Homo sapiens: one gene and its partner. The protein of the gene in region 2 interacts with the protein of the main gene of each other region in a pairwise test. Each region holds a gene or a part of one and is shown on either strand. Other genes may lie near its edges.

What was found. Proteins that work in one complex are often made in the same cells at the same time.
Region 1: the proteins of NFE2L2 (region 2) and KPNA4 interact in binary tests that used the Homo sapiens proteins (3 or more experiments, as listed by UniProt).

What each region holds. Positions count from the first base shown.
Region 1 is NC_000003.12:160,555,572-160,562,571, reverse strand, and holds part of KPNA4 (importin subunit alpha-3), read left to right. Parts: intron 1-7,000. UniProt on the Homo sapiens protein: Functions in nuclear protein import as an adapter protein for nuclear receptor KPNB1. Binds specifically and directly to substrates containing either a simple or bipartite NLS motif.
Region 2 is NC_000002.12:177,233,482-177,242,737, reverse strand, and holds part of NFE2L2 (nuclear factor erythroid 2-related factor 2), read left to right. Parts: intron 1-8,466; coding exon 8,467-8,733; intron 8,734-9,256.

The DNA.
Region 1 (7,000 bases), on a different chromosome or scaffold from region 2:
CTTTGTGTATTTGTTACTTACATATCTGGTCTATCTCTCTAAGCACTTATCAGCCTACTTACATATATGCTGTATCTCTCTAAACACTTAATCACCCTTTAGATATGGTTACTACATTGTGTTACATAATGTCTGTAGAATACAGCAAATTCTGAGAAAATAATTGCTTTTTGATTTGGATCTTATGATGACATCTATTTCATGGGAAGTCTTCAGAAAGAAGTATGGACCAGTGAATTTAACTTAATCCAGTATATCCAAAATACCATGCAACATCTAATTTGTGTAAAATAATTGAGACGTTTCATATTATTCCTTTCATACGTTCAAAATCCAGTTTGTATTTTACGGTTATGGCATACCTCCACTTGGACTAGCTGCATTTCAAGTGCTTAATAGCCACATGTGGTTAGTGGCTACCTTATTGGAACAGCCCATGTACAGAGTATAGCATTTAGGGAGAGGTAATTGTAGCATATTATGATCTAACAGTTTATTTGATTAGAAATGATGAAGAATACAGAGTCCTAGAGTTTAGTTTAATTTGATCTCTAACTTTGTGTATGACCTTGGGGAAAATCGCTTAGTCTTATGGTTCTTTCATCTGTAAAACTAGAGGTACTTGACATCTGCTTCATGAGTGTTGTGAAGATTAATAGGTAATGTTAGGAAGATGCCTGGCAATTCTCTGAGCGTTTTATCACCTTCAGCTTTTCTTTTTGGGGGAGGGAAGGGATTTAACAAGATTCAGTATAATTGATTCTCTTACTCCCTTATTTTCAGTGGCTGTTTTTTCTCTCTGCTTGTATAACTTGTTACATTGAACAAGTAATAGGGAAAGGTTTTAATACAGAGACATGTAGCTGCTCATTGAAGGGCAGTTTAGGCACACCAAATTAGTGATCCTTTTAAAGTTGTAATTTCTGAGTGTTAGAGTTGAAAGTTATTCATAGATTTCAATCTGATATTTGTTCCTACCTCTCTCTACCATTCTGACTCCTCTAAAATGTGGTCATGTTAAGTTTCTTGAAACACAAACGCACCAAAGAAGGCATATGTTCAGTATCCATTTAAAATAATTATCAGGAACTATCAGATGATATTCACCATGGCGTGGCTGCTTCTTACAGTGTTGTAGAAGATCCCCAGTCTTAGTTTGAGAATAGTAACCATAGAAAAGAGGGTATATACAGTGCAACACAGGAAATGGGTAGTGACCAAACTTGAAATAAAAAACTTGTCAGGATAAAGTAAATTAAGCTCATATAATTTATGTTTTTTAAAGTAGAGGGGAATTTTCTTGTAGATTTCCTAATAAACCTGCATACTTTTTATGAAAGTTCTGAGTGTCTAGGTTCAAATAGAGCATAAAATATAACTAGATCTTTTAAAAACACAACTTTAAGAAAACAACTTACCCTAAATATAAAAGAATATTAAAATGCTACATAATTAGAAACTTGTGATTATCCACACAAACATAAAATATGAAGTCAGCTTGAACTTTAAAAAAAGGTGCTTGGTTGGCAAGAGTTTAATAAATTGATCAGCTGTTTTGTTGTTTTGAAAGAGCCTCAGTGATTTGTTAAAGTGTACAGAGTGAAAAGCATTGTTAAGGTATTAAGTCTTGTTAACTTTTAGAGACTGATCTCTCTCACCACAAATCTTGGAACATATTTACTATACTTAAAATAACTACTGTCTAATTTTTCACATAATAGTCCAAGCATGTGACAATATGAAATATCTGATAGAAATATAGTTAGGAATTAAATGACTGTTTCTGTACTTCTTGCCAACTTTCCTGGTTTACAAGGTAGCCAGTTTGAGAATTGCTTCATTGATAGTTTTCCTGGAGATACCAAGATGCCCTTATTTTTCGTAGTCACTAAGTATGTCAAATGAATGTACAAGATTGGGAAGAATTGTAGGAGTGATTTAGATTTCAAAGAATGAAGCTACTTTAGAAAAAAAAATGCAAAGGTAGTTTTTAAACATTGATTTCTAATACCTGATAGTGGTTGTGGGTCCTTAAAATATTTTTAAATGTTTTCTGGAGTAGCATTCATCTATTTGAGGCCTATAATGATGAATGAAACAAGAGCATGTCATCAGATTTAACCTTGATCTCTGATTTTGGTACTTACTCGCTGATTTAGTTTTGGAACAGAAAAGAGGAATATGACTGAAGGGAACTTTCTGAGCACCTACTGTATATGCTTTTAACTGTATTCACATTTCTCTCAATCTTATACATATTGAATTTATTTTAAAGAAGAAATTTTAAAGAAGAAACTCTTGTGCTTTTGATTTAATAAGATAACATTTAAGGGAATGATTTTAATTCAGGTGTGTCAGAGTCTGTTCTTTTTGTACTTTACCATATTTCCTCCATTTGACTTCTTTCAGCCTTAATGCCAGTCTCAAATTTGATGAAAAGGTTCTATGTGAAAGCACTGAGCATAGTCCACGGGGTATAATAGGTATTCAGTAAATGTTTTCTTTTTTTCTCAGAGGGTTTTTGGAAATTGTGGGTCACTTGTAGACTTTCAAACACTAGAAAACACAGTTTGTTTTCTGTGCTTTTCATTTAGGTTTGGTAAAAGACAGGGTTGGAGTTCTTCCTTTTTCTGTGGTTAATATGAGAACTGTATATTGATATCTATAAAATAAGGACATTTTTCAAAACCAAAAATACATAATGAGAAGAATGGCCATGTTGAACCTTTTTTTCGGGTCTTAATGTTTGGCTTAAGACAGCTGAATTCTCATCTGTTTCTGCATTCAGTCTTTTGTGATACACTGTTTTGGTCGAAGTGTGTGAAGAATGTCCACCTTCACACAGACAGACAGTTGAAAAAGGAAAGTATGTTATGTTTTCATAGGCTTTTCAGGATAATTATGGAGATTAAGTGATACTACACCGTAATTCTGCAAGAGGTAGTTTCTTAAAGATAGTTGCAATGTAGAATCTGAAGCCACATGAGTGAACTTTTCTTACACTGTTACATTAAAATCTATTGGTCTGTCTTGCACTTCAGATGTAACATTTACCCATCTTTTACTGATGCTTTTTGTAATACCATGCATTGGATTATTTGGAAAACATTATGTCACTGAGTTATGCACGTCTTCCAAATGCTAACATATTTTATTCAATAAAAAATTCATGATTGTTAACCACACAATTCAGAAAAATCTTAAGTATTGAGAATCTGTCAGGTTCACAGAAGTGGATACAAGTTTTCTAAAATTCTAACTTTCTCTGGGAAGCTCAATTTTTTTTTCTTTTTTTACCATGCCTCTGGGACAAGTTCAGAGGAAGCTGAAATTTTATCATTAGCAATAAATGCTATAAATGGTTATCGTTGAAGCCATAGACTCACTTTGCTCATTTTTGTGAAAACATCTTCCAACCATTAAGTCTGAATAACCATAATTTGTCTGTCAGTCGTTTTTTCAAGTAAAAATAGTGTTCCATGAAAAAAGTGGCTAGGTCAGTTCACAACTCAGTTGCACAAGTACTTTTTCCTTGAGACAGTCGTCCTTAAGTAGAAGTTGGTATGCAGCAGAAGTGGCTTATATGTAATCTTCATTTTTTTCACACAATTAGAAAAGGCCAATATTTAATAAAAGTAATCATTTTTTACTGTTTCCTCAAGGAATTCTTAAGTGAGCTGACTTTTAAACAAATTTTAGATGTGAAATCAGTGACAACTATTGCATCTTGATGTCATTACCTTAATTCATTCTAAAGCACCAGCAGTCTTACCCCTATGGCATCAATTCAAGTGTTAATACAATTTTTTTTTTAAAAAAAGTATTAGTATTATCATTAGGAAAATAGTTTTGACCCTGTGTACTCTCTGTAAAGGTCTCAGGACCCACATAGGGGCCCGTGGACCATGCTTTGAGTGCCACTCTTTTAGTTTACCATTGCTTCTTTTGCACATGAGTGTCACTTTTAATTAATACAGGCTCTTAAAGGACCTTATAGTATAGGGGTTAAAAGACATGGACTGTAGAGTCACTTAGGTCTGGGTTTGAACTCTGGTTTCTCCACTTAGTAATTATGGAGGCTAACTTAATTATGTCTAAGCCTTTGAAATGTTTAACAATGCCTAGCATAAAGTACATGCAGAGTAAATGGAACCTCTTACTATTTCTGCCAACTTACATAGTCATACATTGCATCCAAGTAAACCCCTATGTTCCATATCAGAATAACATTTTGCTTACAAAATTCCTCTTGTACCTCTGTGTGCCATAATCCAAACCACATCATACAAATTTGGGAAGGCTTCTTATTCCCCTTATTTAACAGTCACCTGAAAACCTACTTTCTCCCACATACTTCAGCCAAATTGTCACATACATACTAGTTTATGACTTCATTTCTTTAATCCTATGTTTTAAGTGGGTTACTAAATGCTTTATGTAGATTTTGTCACTGTTTTCTCAAAACATTGTAAATATAATCAGAAAACAACTATAATTCACACTATTTAGTACCCAGAATGAAAATGATTTAAGGTCATAGATATTTGTTGGTAATACAAGATTAAGTTGATTATTAAAGATGCTAAACTTTCCCAGGCACAGTGGCTCATGCCTGTAATCCTATTGCTTTGAGAGGCTGAGGCAGGAGGATTGCTTGATACTGGGAGTTTGAGACCATCCTAGGCAATATGGTGAGACCTTGTCTCTACAAAAAAATAAAAATAAAAAATTTAGCTGGATGTGGTGGCACACACCTGTAGTCATACCTATTTAGGAGGCTGAGGCAGGAGGATCGCTTGAGCCCAGAAAGTGGAGGCTGCAATGAACTATGACCATGCCACTGCACTCCAGCCTGGGTGACAAGAATGAGGTCTCATCTCAGATAGATAGAAATTTTTAAATGCTGACTTATTTTCTATTACTGTTTATTTACTATTCGGACAAAATTTAGTCACCTGTCATTTTTTCCCTAAATTTTTATTTACTTTAAACTTAATGTAAATTAGATTTTAACTAATGATGTATTTTGACAAACATGGAATTTCATGAATTTTTTTACTAACAAAAGTCGGAATCCTAAGATAGTATGTTTTTTACTAGTTCAGTGATGGACATATTGTCTAATATTAGAAGGTAAATCATAGTCTATCTCAGTGTCCTGTTCTTTAATAAAAACTTTAGTTTGCACATATCTACTCTTTATGTTTTTTAAAGTATGTCTTTCTGGACCCTTGAGGTAAGTGTTACATAAATTTATTTAGTTGAGTAGTTTTATCCCGAAAGACCTATGTTAAGTGGTCTCTGCTTGGTTGTATTAAATGGCCCTGTCCTGTTTGCCACCTGTTCTTCCTCTTCACACTGGCTTTTTAGCCACTTTAAGCTGTTACTGGTCCAGAAAAACAAGCAAGATAATACCTTAAGGTTTTCAAATAATTGTTAACATCACTCCTTGTTCTTTAGTAGGTGTGAAACCCAAATATTCTCCAGCTCTTTTTAAAATAGTGCAGAGGATTTGGTTCCTTGAGGCCGGGAGTTTGAGACCATCCTAGGCAGTATAGTGAGACCTCATCTCTACAAAAAATAAAAAATTTAGCTGGGTGTGGTGGCACACACCTATAGTCCTACCTATTTAGGGTAGGTTTGGTTCCTTATTTCACTTTTGAATATTATGTGGAGATGTTCATTTTACTACAGATATATCTATAGAATTGGGTTCATTGTTGATCAGCTGTTTCAGACACCTTAAATTTGTTCACGTTTTTTCTCTTAATGTTGTGAATAATTTTTCCCAATTCCCTTTTTATTCTCCAGCTTTAAAACAATGACAGTACAGGTTGAGCGTCCAAATCCAAAAATCTGAAATCCACAATGCTCCAAAATCTGAAACTTTAAGCACCTACGTGATGCTTAAAGGAAACACTCATTGGAGCATACCAGATTTTGGATTAGGGATGCTCAGTCTCTAAGTATTATGCAAACATTCTAAAATCCAAAAAAATCCAAAATCTGAAACACTTGTGTTCCCAAGCATTTCACATAAGGGATACTCAATGATGAAAAGTTTAATTAAGACCAATAAACAAATAAAAAATAGGATCCGCCTCATTAGTCATTAGGGAAACACAGCTCTAAAGCATGATGAGATACCACTTTACACCCACTAGGATGGCAGTATATAAAAAGAAAATAACAGGTGTTGGTGAGGATGTGGAGAAAGTGGAACCCTCATACATGCCTGATGGGAATGTAAAATGGTACGGCTGCTTTGGAATGCAGTTTGGCAGTTCCTCAAAAAGTTAAACAGTTAACATGTGACCCAGCAGTTCTACTAATTAGATATAAATCCAGGAGAATTGCAAACATAATGTCTGCACAAAAACTTGTAAATGAGTGTTCATAGCAGCATTATCCATAACAGCCAAAAGAGGGAAACAACTTGGCTGGGCGCAGTGGCTCACGCCTGTAATCCCAAGCACTTTGGGAGGCCAAGGCGGGCCGGATCACCTGAGGTTGGGAGTTGGGAAACCAGCACTACCAACATGGAGAAACCCCGTCTCTACTAAAAATACAAAATTAGCCAGGCATGGTGGCGCATGCCTGTGATCCCAGCTACCTGGGAGGCTGAGGCAGGAGAATCACTTGAACCCAGGAGGTGGAGGTTGCAGTGAGCTGAGATCGGGCCATTACACTCCAGCCTGGGCAACAAAAGCAAAACTCCTTCTCAAAAATAATAAATAAATATAAATAATTTAAATAAATAAAATAAAAGAAGGAAACAACCCAAATACCCATTAACTGATGAATGCACAAAGTATGGTATATGCATACAATGGAGTATTGTTCCGCTATAAAATGAAGTATAATAGTTCACCCTTATCTGCAGTTTTAGTTACCTGCAGTCAACTGTGATCAGAAACTAGGTGAATATGTGATACAACAAGATATTAATATTTAGAGAGAAAGAGATCCCACATTCACATGACTTTTCTTACAATATATT
Region 2 (9,256 bases):
CTTGCTTTCTTCACTTTCCAGTTTTGCTTTATCTTTGCATCATGCTCTGCAGTTTACAGACAAGCATAATGGGTGAGAGTTCCAGTAAATTGGCTGGATCATATTTCTTAGATTGAGTCATGACTGAGGAACTTGTTTGGGAACAGGAAGCAGCCCATGAAAATGGCTGCACATAGTAACCTGCCAGATTGAAGAAACCGGACCACTTTCTAGTGGAAAGATAAAAGGGCAGAAAAATGGTTCTATAACTCAGGGAATGGTAAATTTGTGAACTAGGGTTTTAACTTGTTGAATAATACGTCTTTGTGTGTATTTGGGCTTTTTTATGCTGTTAAAAGTCTCTAGTTATTCAAGATAAGGGAAAGGAAAACTTGGATTCGTGGTAACTGTTGCTACCTCTTAAATGTCTCTGCTGATGTATACAACATGTTGCTAGGCCAGTTATTTTTTTTAAGGCACTGTAGTTACATAGAAATAAACCTGGCAACATTTACACTTGGCCTCGATAGGCTGTAAGGCCCCTTTTGTCTCCAGTATTCTGTGTTTCTGTATTTTAATCACCTACTTTACACTTACTGTAGCAACACAATCAAGATAGCAAATCAGTCTAATAAAACCAAAAGTACTGGAATGTGGGAAATAGAAAGAATGACCTAGAATTCTTGCTGAGAAAACAATTGGTATTGCTATATTCTTGTAATGCAGTGTGAGAGAAGCCAGAGAAGTAAATAGGCAGATACATATCTATGAAATGTAATTAGTCATCAGCAAGATGTATTTTAAAAACACATCTGCTTGGTGTCATTTTGCTTTATCTAATAAGGATTACGACTGCAAGGCAGAGATTTGTAAATGAAGGAGATCTCTGTTGTTTTTGTTTTGTTTTTGCTTTTGTTTTGTTTTAAGACAGGGCTGGAGGGCAGTACATGATCATGGCTCACTGCAACCTTCATCTCCTGGGCTCAAGTGATCCTCCCACATCAGTTTCCCAAGTAGCTGGGACTACAGCAGTGTCTCACCATGTCTGGCTAATTTTTAAATTTTTTTGTAGAGTTGAGGCCTGTGTTGCCCAGGCTGGTCTCAAACTCCTGGGCTCAAGTGATTCTCACACCTCAGCCTCCCAAAGAGCTGGGATTACAGGTGTGAGCCACCGTGCCTGGCTGTTATTTTATCAATTCCTCAAAATTCAAGCATGCCCTCAAATATTTTTGCAGCCTCATATAGCTCTTAATTTGGTTTATATTCATCCAGATGGTAGGATATGATTCATGTTCCACCTGGTTTTCTTCAGAAATACTTAGACAGTGTCTATGGAAAAAAACATTGAACCAGATTTAGCTTTTAGGTAAATAATATAATCACCTGGGAATAATATGAAGAATGAAATGAAAGAAAGAAAAATATAATCAAGTGTAACTTAGACTCTGAATGCTGGTAACTAAGATTTGGATGAAGGAAGGATCTCAGGGGAATAACATTAAAATAAGATTTTTTTTAAATGGAAATACATGATTTTAAGAAGGAATAACTTAAGACATTCCAACTTTATACTACATGAAAGTAAAAAGATCAAGGATCAGTTTTCTCTTTGGAGCAAGGCTCAGTTTCGCTTTCTGTTGAGAGTTAGTAGTGTGTATAATTAATTTTTTTTAACAGTTTATTGATGAAATTTATTTTTAGAAGGAAATCTCCCACCACCTTCCTGTCATTCTCAGGGCAAGATAGAGGGTAGGAGAGGGAAGGGAGACTCGGGGGAATGGGAGGTGCAAGCCTTAATTAGACATTTGAGTGTCTAAAAGATTACTTTTCATTTCAAATACTTTGTCTCAGTTTACTGAATAGCTTTAATTTAGGACAGGGATTGTATTATCTTTGCTTTATCTTTTCCAATATTTTGGATCATCTAAGCATGATAGATGCTGGTTTATTCAAGGCACTAAAATTGACTTGCAAAAGACATATTTAATATGGATTCTGTGTTCAAGTCCTTTCTTCTTTGTTTATCCTGGTACAAAGATGTTTGTTTTAAAGTGGTATGAGTTAATTGTCCAACTTCAGATTTCCCTAAAATGTGTAACAGATTACCCAGTTGGCAAATGATGATATATATTTTTTAAACATGAATATTTCTGTTAGGCCAGATGGTGATTTAACATGAATTGTCCAACATTTGTGTTTCTTATCAAATTGTCTTCTTTTGTCTAAGCCAAGCTAGCAACATAATTTGGAACACACTCAGGAATCACTAAAGGACAAGAGCAAAAAAAATTCAGACACCAAGTGGCAGACGGCATTTGCTCCATATGCCATGCAAAGGCTCCTGGCCAGTGCTCGCATGGCCCTTGGGAAGCTTTCTCACCCGTTGTAAGAAAGTATCTGTGCAGTGCTGTGCAACCCATCTACCTGCTTTCCTCTCTCTACCCAAACCCTACTTATCTAACACTTTGTACTGTGGCCTTCCTCCATGGGGGACTTGCACTTCCTCAAAGCCCTGGATTTCTGTGCAGAAGAGCAGTTTTAGTTCTTCCTTAGGCACTTCCCTTTCCTCCTGTCCAGTGTCATGTTCTTGTTTGTTATGGGCTCCACCCAGACGATTATTTCCTCTTAGATGATGTGTGAGCCTTGCAGAGAGCTGGGTCATTTGTGGAATAAATCATGTGCCCAGTCACACGGCTCCTTACAGGAAATGGTTGGTGCATATTAGCTTAGCACAAAATACAGTAGTGAGCTTGTGGTCCCCAACAGTGAGTCTTCAGTTAACTTCTGCTGTTTTTTTTTTTTTTTTTTTAACATAAAGCTTTGAATGTTTCATACAGTATCAAATCTCTGCAGGATTTTGCCTGCTGAAACAGATGTGAAAATCTGAGTAGCACAGAGTATGACATTAAGGCCATAACAATAAACCTATTGTTGCTGCATTCTAAATTTGATCAAGATGTCTGTTTTTGGGAATCCAAAATAGTTGCTTCAAATTTAGCTTTTTTCTTTTATGAAGCAGTTTTGTTTTGTTTTGTTTTGAGACCTCTCATAGCAAGAAAAAACATTACATAAACTTTTTTTTGAGACAAGGTCTCACTTTGTTACCCAGGCTGGAGTGCAGTGGCACGATCTTGGCTCACTGCAGCCTCGACCTCCTGGGCTCAAGCAGTCCTCCCACCTTAGTCCCCCACGTAGCTGGGACTACAGGCACATGCCACCACGCCCGGCTAATTTTTGTATTTTTAGTAGAGACAGGGTTTCACCATGTTGCCCAGGCTGGTCTCGAACTCCTGAGCACAAGCGATCTGCCCGCCTCGGCCTCCCAAAGTGCTAAGATTATAGGCGTGAGCCACCATGCCTGGCCACATAAATATAAACTTAAAAATACACAGGAAAACCTTTCAGAACACTTTGAAACCTATTTTGGTCCTATTACGATTGCACTGAATGTCCCCCAGCCTAATGAAGAGCAATTAGATGTCATTTGGTGGCATTCTTGGTGGAGACAGTAAGCTAGGGCCGCAGGAGCTGCTTAGTCTCCCAGGGTCCAGCATTGTTTCAGGTAACGTGAACAGGATGCTCAAGAGCTAGTCTAAATAATGCTTCATGTCTTATTTTTCCTGTTTGTTGATAAGGATTCATAAAGATGTCTTTTTCTGGTCATGTCAAGGGAAATTCAAATAAAAAACATTGAATTGGTTTGGAGCTGTCCATTGAAGGGTACTCACAGCAGGAATTGAGTGGCAATTGAATGTGTGTGTGTGTATGTTTGTAAACATTTATATTAGAGTGTATGCAAATGTATATGGGCGTGCCCACTGCCATCACCATTACCCCCACCAACAGTAACAAAACCACCATCAAGAGCAATATCCACTAAAACTTCTAATTTGCTTATTAATTTGCTTTATTATTTGTAAATAATTCAGAATCTCTGAGATCAAAATCCTTTTTTATTACAACATGTTAATAGTAGTCTAATTCAGACCTGCCCTGAGGAAGAACCAAGCAATGAAGCTGTCCATGATTTTAGAAGTTAATTGGCTCATTCTTTCTGACCATCTAGGTAGTCCCAACATTATTTTAGGCTCCCCCTAGTTAGGTCCACAACCTCATTATTATCCATTGGCCTGGACTTTGGTCTCGCTTATACAGCAAGTAGTAGAGCCTATCACTGTCAACATGTAAACATTTGCATATTTTACATTTATAGAGAGATACTTTTCACGTGCCTCATTTGATCCACTAACATCTGTATGCTTGGGTAGGATGGAATAATTAAACAATGTATAGCTAAAGCCATCCAAACCCCTCAAATATTATCATCTGATGGGAAGGAAAAGGGGGGGAAAGGAAATTAAATAGTTATTTCAATTCTTGGCATGATTGACACTGACAATTATAAATTCCATTCAATATTTTCTTCCAGCTCATGAGGGTTGGTTGTAAGGATACTTTGCAAGTCAGATTTATGAGCAGAAGATGTTTGCAACCTAAATTGCTTCAGTTGCATGAAAAAGTCACAACCTTTTACTGATTTTTATCCTGGGATCTCCTTAACAAGAAAAAACCTCAGGCCCAGGAAGTCTAGGGTGAGGCAGGGATGTGTCAAAGTACACTTTTCCCCACGTACAGGGACAAGTATTTGAGTTTCTTTGATTGACTTTGCAAAGAGCTTTGCACACTTTGCACATCACTTCTTGAGATGGGTGGGAACATGGACTGCCTATTTTACAGAGTTCAATTAAGATCGCAGGATCATGCATTCCTTTCATTTTTGGTGCTAGTACCTAGAAGATGGGAACATATTGAACACTTAATACCTTGCTTGGGCAGATAGCTCCAGTTTGCAGAAAGTCTAGACAGGATACCCTGCTATGTATCTAGATTTACTGAGAAGAAGCGGCCCAAGCTAATCAGAATTTTAAAGTAGGTTTCTCAGCTGGGCGTGGTGGCTCACACCTGTAATCCCAGCACTTTGGGAGGCCGAGGCAGGCAGATCACTTGAGGTCAGGGGTTCGAGACCAGCCTGGCCAACATGGCGAAATCCTGTCTCTACTAAAAATAGAAAAATTAGCCGGGCATGGTGGCACGCACCTGTAATCCCAGCTATTCAGGAGGCTGAGGTGAGAGAACTGCTTGAACCCTGGAGGCGGAAGTTGCAGTGAGCTGAGATTGTGCCACTGCACTCCAGCCTGGGCGACAGAGCGAGACTCCGTCTCAAAAAAAAATAAAATAAAGTAGGTTTCTCTATACCTTTGAATTTTCTGTCTCCCATGATAACCTTTGGGTAAACATGTCCATCAGAATGGAAACAAATCATTTTTTAAAATAGAAATTATTCTCATACCTATTTTAGTGGGAATCCCCCTGAGAAGATAGCCATGTATAGTCGACTGAATGCTCTGTGGTTGCTATTTTGTTGCTCTTGGCCAGGAAACTGATCTAGGTGACCTACAGACTTAATCTGACCTGCAGACTGGCCGCTTCATACTACCAAGATTCCAAAGCCAAGTGTATATACAGTCGGCCCATGCAGCCTCTGGTTCCATGATGCAACCAATGGCAGATTGGTTCAAAAATATTTGGAAAAAGGCCAAGCACAGTGGAGTGGTTCATGCCTGTAATCCTAGCACTTTGGGAAGCTGAGGCAGGAAAATCAATGGAGCCCGGGAATTCAAGACCAGCCTGGGCAAAATGGCAAGACGCCATCTCTACAAAAAGTAATTAGCTGGGCTTGGTGGCATGTGCCTGTAGTCCCAGCTACTTGGGAGGCTGAGGTGGGAGGATCACTTGAGCCCAGGTGAAGGCTGCAGTGAGCCATGATTGCATCACCACACTCCAGCCTGGGTGACAGAGTGAGACCCTATCTCAAAATGAGTAAATAAATAATAAAATTTCAAAAGGAAAAAAGTGGAAAAAAAACCCGAAAAAATAACAATACACACATAAAATACAGTATAACAACTATTTACACAGCATTTACACTTTACTAGGTATTGTAAGTAATCCAGGGATGAGTTAAAGTATATAAAGGGATATGCATAGGTTATTTGCAGCAAATGCCATGCCATTTTATAATAGTGTAGGCTCATGGCTAATAAAGCATGAACCCGACTGAAGCTGCCTGGGTATGTGTCTTTGTTCAGCCACTTTCTGGTAGTATCTTTTTTCTTAACCTCAGTATTCTTATACTGTATAACAGGAATGTTTTCTCTGTATAAGGCTGTTTTGAGGAATAGTTTCTATATGTAAAGTACTTAGAACAGTGCATAGCATATAGGAAGCCCTTAATAGATACTGGCTTAAAGATAATTAGGTATGTCCTAGTGAGGTATACCTAACTACAAGTGCTACTTTAACTATGCCTACTTTGTGTGCTTTACAATATATATTGTTCAAGGCTAGAATAATGAGCCCCATGAGCAGGGTTTCATAGCATTTAAGATTCCAACGCCAACCTTCAATCATGGACACAGGTGGCCTGTGCCATCTAGCTAGCTGCGCTGCCTCCAGGCTGGGTGGCCTGCTCCTCTGTTGGATAAAAATAGCCTGACTCCTCACTGAAACAACCACCATGTTATTTGCGTCCTTGGGAAGCTGAAAGTAATAGAACTCTAAGTCTGGCGTTGCCAGCTGTCAGCAGAATGAAATGCAAAGTGTGACGTGTCTACACTGTACCCACTGGCCTTCAAGTCCCAACTCCCGTTCCCCCATCTTGATTTTTTTCCATTCTCAAATTAATTATTTCCCCTATAGGTGATTTGTGGAATGGAAACAGATTTAGATTTCCTACCTATTTAGATTTTTCCAAAGACTAAAATTACAAATCAGAAAAACTGCTATTGACACATTTTTGGTTAGGAAAATCTGGATGTGGTTCCTATGCCTAGCCTAGTCATATAAATTCTCTCCCCATGTATCTTTTTGTGTGTGTGAAACAGGGTCTTGTCACCCAAGCTGGAGTGCAGTGGTACAATCACAGCTCACCATGGCCTTGACTTCCTGGGCTCAAGCAATCCTCTCACTTCAGTCTCCCTAATAGTTGGGACTACAGGCTCGTATCACCACGTGCAACTAATTTGTTTTGATTTTGGGTAGAAACAGGTGTCACTATGGTGCCCAGGCTAGTAACTCCTGTGCTCCAGCAATCCTCCTGCCTTGGCCTCCCAAACTCCTGGGATTACAGGCCTGAGTCACCAAGCTCAGCCTCTCCTCATCAAAACCATTCCCTCTTTGTAAGATTCTTCCTATGTCTTAAAACTTAATACCTTTAATCCTTCCCTGGAGCCATAGTTTTATTTATTTATTTATTTATTTATGAGACAGGGTCTCACTTTGTTGCCCGGGCTGGAGTGCAGTGACACGATCATAGCTCACTGCTGCCATGACCTCCTGGACTGAAGTGATCCTCCTACCTCAGCCTCCTGAGTAGCTGGGACCACAGGTGTGCGCCACCACACCAGTTGTTGTTGTTGTTGTTTGTTTTTGTTTTGGTAGAAACAGGGTCTCTCCATGTTGCCCAGGCTGGTCGCGAACTCCTGGGCTCAAGCAATCCACCTGCCTCAGCCTCCCAAAGTGCTGGGCTTGTAGGCGTGAGCCACCGCACCTGTCCCTGTCTGCTTTTATTTTATTTTTTTTTGAGATGGAGTCTTGCTCTGTTGCCCAGGCTGGAGTGCAGTGGTGCGATCTCAGCTGACTGCAACCTCTGCCTCCCAGGTTCAAGCCGATTCTCCTGCCTCAGCCTCCTGAGTAGCTGGGATTACAGGCACGTACCACCACACCCGGCTGATTTTTGTATTTTTAGTAGAGACGTGGTTTCACCATGTTGGCCAGGCTGATCTCGAACTCCAGACCTCAGGTGATCCACCCACCTTGGCCTCCCAAAGTGCTGGGATTACAGGCATATAGGTAAGCCACAGAGATAAGAGTAGCAAGCAGTGATGGGGAGAAGATAATCTAGTGTAGGAAAGATGGAAAGAATGGTGATATTTCACAACTGCTAGATTGACACTTTAACTTGAGAGTTATCCCTCTATAAACTGGATATTTGCTGAGCAAAGTTTAAAGAAAACTCCATGTATTCAGTAATGTTTTCCAGACCCCACTTCTCTTATATAAGCCAGTGGCTTAGAGTGCTTGCTCTAATTTCTATATTCCATTAAACAAGGGTGGGATTTCTTCTCATTCAAACCATTTGTGACTTTGCCCTTTAGTGACCTCTACCATCACCCTATCATTAATGATCCAAGTGATTAGAATGGATGGCTATGTGTTTGTAGGTTGTTTGTTGTCTTTAATGAATAGATTCATTGAATGGAATTAACTGTGCTCTTCTAGAACATTGGATCTGTGTTCTCATTTAGATTGTATTTGTAATCTCCCCACTTCCCACCATCAACAGTGGCATAATGTGAATTAATTTATGTGGTATCTGTCATTTAAAAAACATGAGCTCTCTCCTTCCTTTTTTTGTCTTAAACATAGGACATGGATTTGATTGACATACTTTGGAGGCAAGATATAGATCTTGGAGTAAGTCGAGAAGTATTTGACTTCAGTCAGCGACGGAAAGAGTATGAGCTGGAAAAACAGAAAAAACTTGAAAAGGAAAGACAAGAACAACTCCAAAAGGAGCAAGAGAAAGCCTTTTTCGCTCAGTTACAACTAGATGAAGAGACAGGTGAATTTCTCCCAATTCAGCCAGCCCAGCACATCCAGTCAGAAACCAGTGGATCTGCCAACTACTCCCAGGTACAGAGTACTCAGTTCTTGGGAAAGTTATGGCAGGTTTAAGGAAACACTGAGCAAGGAATTAAAATATCTGGATTTGAGTTCCAGCTTTGCCTTTCTTTTACTTAACCTTGTCAAATCTACTTTCCAACCTCAGCCTCCTGATGAGTTCAGTACCTAACCTGAGTTCAGTACCCAACCTATTGATCTTAACAGTGTTATTGTGAGGATTGGGAAGACTTAAGTTACACCAAAGAGTTTTGTAAAGTATAGAAACATCCTGTAAGGATCAAGTAGCAGCAACAGAAGTAGTAGCAGGAGAACCAAGTAGCAGGGATTACTGGCGTTACTGTGTGTGGCAAGCACTGTTTTAAGAACATATACTGACTGATTTAATTAACACAACTATATTAATTAGTTACCATTATCCCTGTTTTATCTACGATGAGCAACTGAAGCTCACAAAGGTTAAATAATTTGCCCAGATCACTCAGAAAATTGGAGGAGCTAAGATCTGAACCCATGTGGTCTAGTTCAAATTGTG